Linked DNA regions of Homo sapiens: region 1 is linked to region 2. Evidence: fine-mapped expression QTL. A gene starts in region 2. The other region holds a variant in brackets. All regions are shown on one strand. Distances are between the middles of the regions. Region 1 overlaps GALM (galactose mutarotase). Region 2 holds the start of GALM (galactose mutarotase).

Region 1 (4,387 bases), 42 kb before region 2:
CTGAGTGCTGGCAGAATGCAGAAGTCTGGGACTCAAACACTGGATAGGGGAGTAACTATTTTATAGGCTCTAAATAGCTCCTCCAAGTGTGGACCTAGGACCATCTGATGACCACATGCATCACCCAGGGGCTTGTTAGACACATAGATCCAGAGGCTCCACTCCAGCCACTGAGTCTGAATCTGCATTTTCACAAGTTGCACAGGTGATCTGTGTGCACATGAATGCTGACAAGCACTGATGTGGAGATCATCTGAGGAAGCCCCAGGTTCAGGTGGGCTGCTGCTCTGAAAAGCAAAAGTTGGGAGGGACACTGGGGCAGCAGGAAGAGCACGTGGTGCTAGAGTCTGGTCTCCATGAGGATAGCCCAGCTGTGCTTCCAGCCCAGCTGCTCCAATTATGTCTGTTTCTTTATCTAGTCGGGCTCAGAAGAGTCAGTCAAATTTGCATAAGGAGGCCTGCGGTAAAGGGGCTCATGGGCACAGGTACTCATCTGACACCTCATTAAGCCATCTTCGTAAATCATCTCTAGAATGCCTGTTGTTATTTTAGGAAACAACATAAAGAGGATGATAATTAAAAGTAACACCCTGGGTGGGAATTTTTACTTCCTTCCAGTGGTTGGCAAGTAAAGCACCTTGGGAATTTTTTGGTAAGGTAACATTTCTATACATTTTTCACAGATCACACAACATCAAAGCTTGTCTATGCTGCAGGTTTTTTTCCCTTTCCTCTGCTGGTGCTTTGGGTTTGCGGCTTTATTCTGTTGCTGGCTTTTTGTCTTATGTTTTTTTTTTTTTTCCTTTCCACCGAGCATTTTCTGATTTTACCTTGACTTGCAACGGGGGAGGGTATTGCTTCTGGATGTTAGATGACATCCGAAGCATAAAATGCTAAACCAAGCTGCAGGTCGTTTTCAGGTGAAAAGGCAATTTTACGCTTCATGGTTGGGACCACGTAAGGCATTTTCATGGTGGGGTATTTTTCATCTTAGATCCATCAGGATGACATCCAGGGATTTGCTGTCTAGTAGAAAGTTCACCTTTCAGTTACCCACTGTCTGTCTGCAGCCTCCTAGTCCTGCTGCTCTCCTGCACAGGCACAAGGGCATTCCTGCTAGACCTGCTCCCCTCCTGGGACTGCCAGGCCCCTGATGTTGCCATATTCCCCTGGTTTTCAGGGCCCCTTGCCACGCGTCTTCCCTGTCCCCCACAACCCTCACTGCCTACCTGTCTAGGCCCACTGTCTAGGACCTGAGACCCTTAGTAACACTCCTTGATCTGCCTTACACCCTGTCCTCCTGCTCCTCCTCTCTGATAAAACCCCAACTTCAGGTCATCCCACCATTTGCCTTCTCTGCTCCTGACTCCGCCCTGCCGAGAGAGCTGGAGAAAGCCCACAGAAGCACCGGCAGAGGCCACCACAGATTCACGGTCTCAAGCCTTCCCTGGATTCCTCTGCTCTCTGACAACCATTTTACTTGTCCTAAATCAGCTCCTCTCCTTCAAAAAACAAACAAACAAACAAAAAAAACTGTTATTTGACCCCACTTCCCTGCCTCACAGAGGAGCCTTCTCTTTGTCACAGCTTGTTGACAGCACTTTCTTTTTTTTTTTTTTTTTTCTTGAGACAGAGTCTCGCTCTATCACCCAGGCTGGAGTGCAATGGCATGATCTTGCTCACTGCCAGCTCCGCCTACCCGGGTTCATGCCATTCTTCCTGAGTAGCTGGGACTACAGGCGCCCGCCACCATACCTGGCTAATTTTTCATATTTTTAGTAGAGGTGGGGTTTCACCATGTTAGCTGGGATGGTCTCGCTCTCCTGACCTCATGATCCGCCCGCCTCGGCCTCCCAAAGTGCTGGGATTACAGGCTTGAGCCACTGTGCCCAGGCGACAGCACTTTCAATACCAGTCCTTTCTGTTAACTCACTGAGGTAGCTTCTAGGATGCTGGGACAGATTCCATGGCCCTGTGCTAAAGCAAATGAATCAGAATCTCTGAGGTGGGGCCCAGGATTCTTTTTTATTTATTTTTATTATTTTTATTTTTTTAGAGACAGGGTCTTGCTCTGTCACCCAGCTGGAGTGCAGTGGCGTGATCACAGCTCACTGTAGCCCCTAGCTCTCTGGGCTCAAGAGATACTCTTGCCTCGGTCTCCCAAGCAACTGGTACTACAGGTGCAAGCCACCATGCCAGGCTTTTTTATTTTATTTTATTTTATTTTATTTTATTTTATTTTAATTTT[G/TG]ATACAGTTTCTCACTCTGTTGCCCATGCTGGAGTGCAATGGCATGACCTCGGCTCACTGCAACCTCCGTCTCCCAGCTTCAGGTGATTCTCCTGCCTTAGCCTACCGAGCAGCTTGGATTACAGGTGTGTGCTACCACGCCTCGCTAATTTTTTATTTTTAGTAGAGACAGGGTTTCACCATTTTGGCCAGGCTGGTCTTGAACTCCTGACCTCAAGTGATCCACCCACCTCGGCCTCCCAGAGTGCTGGGATTATAGGCATGAGCCAGCACACCCGGCTGCTAATTTTTATATTTTTTTTGTAGAGATGGGGTCTTGCTGTGTCCTGAACTCCTGGCCTCAAGTGATCCTTCCGACTCAGCTACCCAAAGGACTGGGATTATAGGCGTGAGGCACTGTGCCTGGCAGGGTTCTGTATTCAAGAAAGCTGCCTAGTTGGGAACCAGTTATTGGCCTATATTCCTGAATCTTTCCTCACTTTTTGTCACTTCTCAAACGGTTACAGTCTGGCTTCTGCCCTGACCACTCTGTTACATTCTTAAACGGGGTCAGGACAACAACCACCACAGCCATGCAGGTTCCCAGGTCTCCTGCCACTTGACTCCCTGGAGTATTGACACTGTTGGTCACTCCAAGACTTCTAGACACCTCTTCTCCTTCTTTGCCTTCTACCCCTGGCCATCTCCCTTGGCACTTTAAGGTAGACCCTTTTTGGACCTTAAATATTGGTGGTTGTTTCCTAGAGTTTCCCAGGGTTTGGTCCTCAGACCACTGCTCTCCTCAGTCTATGATTCCTCTCTGGTAAATCCACGTGGCTTAATCTACAAAGTACACGCTGATGTATGCCTCCAGCTGTCATTTCTCTAACGTCACACTCATGCATCCAGCTGCTGGAAGTGTAAGGTCAGGTGTACAGGGGAGATGTACACCCCACAGGCACCCTAACCTCAAATATTTCAAGATCAAATCCATAGTTCTCCCAGCCCCCCATGCCAGCTCCCCCTCCTCCCCTACTCACAACTCACTGAACATCCCCATCTCTACTGCCCAGCAGCTGCTCTAGAGTCCCGGGGTCATCACACAGCCTTCCTGCTTCCTCATCTATGCATTCAATTCAGGCCTCCTGAGTTTTACCTCCTAAATATGATTAAACTGCCTTCTTCCACCTGACCCTTAATTTGGGTCTCATCTCTTGCTTGGACTATTAAAATAGCGACCCCCCCGCCCCCCTTTTTTTTTTAAAGAGATGGAGTCTCACTATGTTGCCGAGACTGGATTTGAACTCCTAGATTCAAGTGTTCCTCCTGCCTCTGCCTCCTGAGTAGCTGGGACTACAGGTACACACCATTGTGCCCAGCTCCAACAACAGCATCTAAACTGGTCTCTGTCTCCAGTCAAGTCCCACCAGAACAGTTGCTGGGGTGATATTTCTTTGTTTCTGAAACAGAATCTCCCTCTGTCACCCAGGCTGGATCACAATTCACTGCAAACTCCACCTCCCTGGCTCAAGGAATCCTTGAGCCTCAGCCTCCCGAGTAGCTGAGACTACAGGTGTGGGCCACCGCACCTGGCTAATTTTTTTTTTTTTTTTTTTGTAGAGATGGGGTCTCGATATGTTGCCCAGGCTGGTCTCGAACTCCTGGGCTCAAGCAATCCACCTGCCTCGACCTCCCAAAGTGCTGGGATTACAGGTGTGAGCCACCACGCCCAACCTGGGGTGAGATTTCTAAAATGCCAATCTTGACAGGTCAGTTCCCAGCTTAGAATGCTTGAAAGCCCTCCATGATCTAAAGTTAAAATTCCAGCTGGGTGTGGTGGCTCACGCCTGTAATCCCAGCACTTTGGGAGGCAGAGGTGGGTGGATCACGAGGTCAGGAGTTCAAGACCAGCCTGGCCAACATCGTGAAACCTCGTCTCTCCTAAAAATACAAAAATTAGCTGGGCAGGGTGGCGGGCACGTGTAATCCCAGCTACTTGGGAGGTAAAGCAGGAGAATCGCTTGAACCTGGGAGGCGGAGGTTGCAGTGAGCCAAAATCGTGTCACTGCACTCCAGCTTGGGCAACAGAGTGAGACTTTGTCTCAAAAAAAAATCAGCCTGATGTGGTGGTGCACGCCTGTAATCCCTGCTACTCGGGAG
Region 2 (4,387 bases):
AGGCAGAGGGAAAGGTTAGAGTATATTTTTATTTTTTTGAGATGGGGTCTCACTCTGTCGCCCAGGCTGGAGTGCAGTGGCGCAATCTCGGCTCACTGCAACTTCCGCCTCCCAGATTCAAGTGATTCTCCTGCCTCAGCCTCCCAAGTAGCTGGGATTACAGGTGCCCGCCAGCAGCCTGGCCAACATGGTGAAACCCCATCTCTACCAAAAACACAAAAAAATTAGCCGGGCATGGTGGTGTTCAACAGAAAGCTGAGTTTTGTTTTTTTCCCTGAGGAATTGAAATTTGCTCTCTGTTTTTTAAGATAGAGTTTCGCTCTGCCACCCACGCTGGAGTGCAGTGGCGCAATCTTGGCTCACTGCAACCTCCGCCTCCTGGGTTCAAGCTATTCTCCTGCCTCAGCCTCCTGACTAGCTGGGATTACAGGCACGTGCCACCATGCTCAGCTAATTTTTTTGTATTTTTAGTAGAGACAGGGTTTCACCATGCTGGCCAGGCTGGTCTGGCCAACATGTAACCATGAGCCAAGTTACATATCTTACGTATCGGAAGAACCAAACAGACAGAATGACACACCAAAAGGAAAACCTCAAACCTCCTCTCCAGCAGAATTTGTCTACGCCCCAACCACTGAGCAGAGAGTATTAACTCTCAGTTTCCCTTTGCCAGCTTTATTTCACACCTCATTTTCTGTCTAGTTACACCATGGTGCTAAGAGAGCATGATGTACATTTTCCTTTGCTGCAATCAAGCTGCAATTGTCATTCTTTATTTATGCAATTACTGAGTTAAAGTCTATCTCCCCAGCCAAACCGCAAGAGTGGGGACCTTGTCTGTCCTGTTTAATGAGGTCATCGGATTAATAGAGTTGTCAAATGTATTAATTAATGCCTGATCCTAATTGCCCATGGATTCTGGGATAAAAGTCCATCCTAGTTGGTAGGAGACCTGATCTCTGAGAAGACACTGAGTTGGTCTTCTCTATTTTGTTCCTAAATGGTTATTGGGTAGCTGGTGTACTAGGCAACCACTGAGCTTAGTGGAGCATTTCTGAGACAACCAGGCCTCAAAGAGAATCTGATCAAGGAAGAAGGAAGTAGAAGAGGCAAGTATTTGAATTTCCTTCTTCAGAAGGGAAGAAGTGGGAGCCACACCCCCTCTTGCCTGCTCTTTCCTCTCCAGCCTTCTCCAGGTATCAGGCAGTTCAAAGATTAGGCAGTTCAAAGATCGCTCCAGGATCGCTGAAGTGTATCATACCATCAGCTGACCTTTTACGTTAACTGGGGCAAAGCCTGAACGGATAACCAGAGGCCAACTGCCATAGTTTATTTATTACAGTTTTTCCCAAATGCTGGATGGCCACACGGCCCTCTATGATGCATGCGCTTGCAAGTCAGACGGTCCCAAGCTAGGCGACTTTCCCCCTTGGTCCCTCGCATTGCAAGTGGCCCGCTAGATCCGGGAGGTATGTAGCGTGGGCCTGGGGCCTGCTCGCAGCCCAGGGCACAGTTCAACCCACCTTCCAACTCGGCGAAGCCAAGCACCACGTCCGAGGCTCTCCCCTGCCTGTCTTTGACCTCTAGGGCTGTGATCGTGCAGCCCCAGGAGATGATGTCCACTCTCAAGAGGTCTGACTGCAGCTGGAACTTCTCCACTGTCCCTCCTCCCGAGGGCAGCTCTCCAAACACGGCCCTGGTCACCGAAGCCATAGGGAAAGTTTGGCGTGTGCAGCCACTGCCCGCTCTTCAAACTCCAGCGCTCGCTAAGCTAGAGGCGACCCAAGTTTACAGGAGAAGGGGCGTGACTCGGCTCAGACTCCTCCCTTTCCCTGCCTGGATTTAGGGAGTGACCGTTCCTGCAAAAAATAGCCCCTGGGGCCTTTCTAAATCAATCATTTGCCTGAGGGTAACAAGAGGGGCAAACTTTGCAGCCACACTTGTACTTTTTTTCCTTGGCTCGTCCTGGTTGCATTGCATGTTGGGAATGGTAGTTTTTGGGAGGTGAAATTGCATTTTGGGGCTTGTAGTCTTTCTAAACTCGAATCCTGGGTTGACGGGGTTCTACCCCCATCTCCCCACACCTCAACATGTAATGAGCTGGTCATTAATGTCGGTGGCTATCAGACGAAGAATGGGAAAATACAGATAGCAGACTTACAGTGAGACCGATCTTGGGAAAAAATTAGATTTTAACTCTTTGATACAGGGGGTAAGAAGTACAGCAGTAGTTGGCCGGCTCGGTGGCTCACGCCTGTAATCCCAGCACTTTGGGAGACCGAGGCAGGCGGATCACGAGGTCAGGAGATTGAGACCTTCCTGGCTAACACGGTGAAACCCCGCCTCTACTAAAAATACAAAAAAAAAAAAAAAAAAAAAAAAAAAAAAAAATTAGCTGGGAGTGGTGGTGGGGGCCTGTAGTCCCAGCTACTCGGGAGGCTGAGGCAGGAGAATGGCGTGAACCCGTGAGGCGGAGCTTGCAGTGAGCCGAGATCACGCCACTGCACTCCAGCCTGAGTGACAGAGCGAGACTCCGTCTCAAAACAACAACAACAACAACAACAAAGTACAGTAGTAGCTTAGAAATGAGGTAAATCATCTCAGGCTTCTCTGCACACAGACTTACTGAAGATTCACTCTTTTTGTCCCACGGATGAAGTCCTGGACATGGTTCTGTTAGAGCCACTGCCCAGAAGGCTCTCCTGACGGCCAAAGCTGTGCCAGCCTCGAGGAGCTTGGACCAGACAGGGTCAGGTAGATGGATTAGGCCCTCGGTGTGCGGAGGTGATTAGAGACAGCCTCAGACTTATTTTACTTCAAGGGACTGGAAAGGGACCTCTGGTGTCTTCTGGCTCCTGAAGTCCACAGTTCCTTTAAGAAGGGATTCAGGGAACAAGTATTGATTGAGGTCCTTGTAAATGCCAGGTACTGAACCTTTGTTATCTCCTTTTCTACAAGTAGGATGGAGTCTTCAGGTATGTACAGTTGGAGAGGAAAGACACTAAGGTTATTAAATAATTGTCTTGCTTGATTGTGTCTCAGAATTTGCTGAGGACATTTAAAATGCATATTCCCAGTCCCCACCTCTGGAATTTCTAATTCTGGAAGTCTAGGGTGAAACTCAGGAATCTGCATTTTTCATGTTCCCAAGTTATTCTTCTGCAGATTATCTGGGACCAGATTTAGAGAAATATTGCTCTAAGGCTTGATGAGTAATCTGAATTTTTTTCCCCAAAAAAATAGGCTCTGATGGCAGAAGGATTAAGATAAAGCTATTAAGGGCCTTAATGAGATAACATACAGGCACCTATGTACTTCCTTGCTAAGTCTGGCAACTTTAGAGGAGTACTGAGCCTAGGAAGTGGGAGGATGCTGGGAGCCTAAAGACAAGTTTTACTCAAGCCATCTGCATAATCATCTATCTTTTCTTGATACTGCTCTTGGCTTGGTTCCTGGGTACTTCAGAGGGTATCCAACTAGACTGGGGTGAGTGCAGAAATGAAATGCATCTTTGATTAGGAAATTATGAGAATTGGGATTATGTGCCTGGAATCAGATGCTAATAAAACATAATAACTATCTCTCAGCTTCTTCTGTCTGTAATTTAAGGTATATTTAGCATTCTTGCCATAAAGCCTCAATTCTCCATCATGAAGCAGAAGAATTCTGATAGCAAAGGAAAAATAAAAAAGCTTGCAACAGGCTTCAGTGAAGCTCAACGTATAATAATAAAAAGACCCAAACAAGTCAAATTATAGACTGCATCACACTCATACAATAACCGACAGGCACTCCTATGTGCTGCTTCATCAGAAATTCTCATAAACTCTCAGTTTCATCAGCCACTTAACTTTGTGGTGATTCACACGCAAGCCCTTTGGCAATGCTGTGTTAGCAAGGATGTCTTAGAAAAGTGAGCAGGAAGACCACTTTTTTTTTTCTCAACCTCCAGTTCTCAGTGTTCTGCCAAGCACATGCTGTTACAGAAGGAAATAAATGTATTTGCCTGCCCAATGCTAAATGTCTCTACGGAAGCTCTTTTTACTCCATTTGGTAGAAAATGAATGTACCATGATGTCTCCCTAAAATGTAAAGAGGCCTGGGCGCGGTGGCTCATGCCTGTAATCCCAGCACTTTGGGAGGCAGAAGCGGGTGGATCACCTGAGGTCAGGAGTTCGAGACCAGCTTGATCAATATGGTGAAACGCCATCTCTACTAAAAATAAAAATAAAAAAAAACTAGCCAGGCATGGTGGTATGTGCCTGTAGTCCCAGCTACTCTGGAGGCTGAGACAGGAGAGTTGCTTGAACCAGGGAGGCGGAAGTTGCAGTGAGCTGACGTTGCACCACTGCCTCCAGCCTGGGTGACAGAGTGAGACTCTGTCTCA

What was found. PIP is the estimated chance that this variant, and not a neighbour inherited with it, causes the effect. A credible set is the group of variants that fine-mapping cannot tell apart.
Region 1: its variant is the best candidate, but not a certain one, in a credible set for the expression of GALM in whole blood (INTERVAL, PIP 0.89).

The regions. Positions count from the first base shown.
Region 1 is chr2:38,705,968-38,710,354 of GRCh38, reverse strand. The region is part of intron 4 of GALM (galactose mutarotase); the gene reads right to left. All of the region lies in intron 1 of LOC124905993 (a long non-coding RNA gene), which reads left to right. Among named protein-coding and RNA genes, the nearest start is that of GALM, 42 kb to the right of the region's middle. RefSeq lists a silencer at 341-541. The variant G/TG (reference allele first, on the strand shown) is at 2,249.
Region 2 is chr2:38,663,488-38,667,874 of GRCh38, reverse strand. It overlaps GALM (galactose mutarotase), which reads right to left and starts at 1,761. Exons shown (of 7, transcript NM_138801.3): 1 at 1,524-1,761. The coding sequence starts at 1,713. RefSeq lists enhancers at 984-1,496, 1,497-2,009.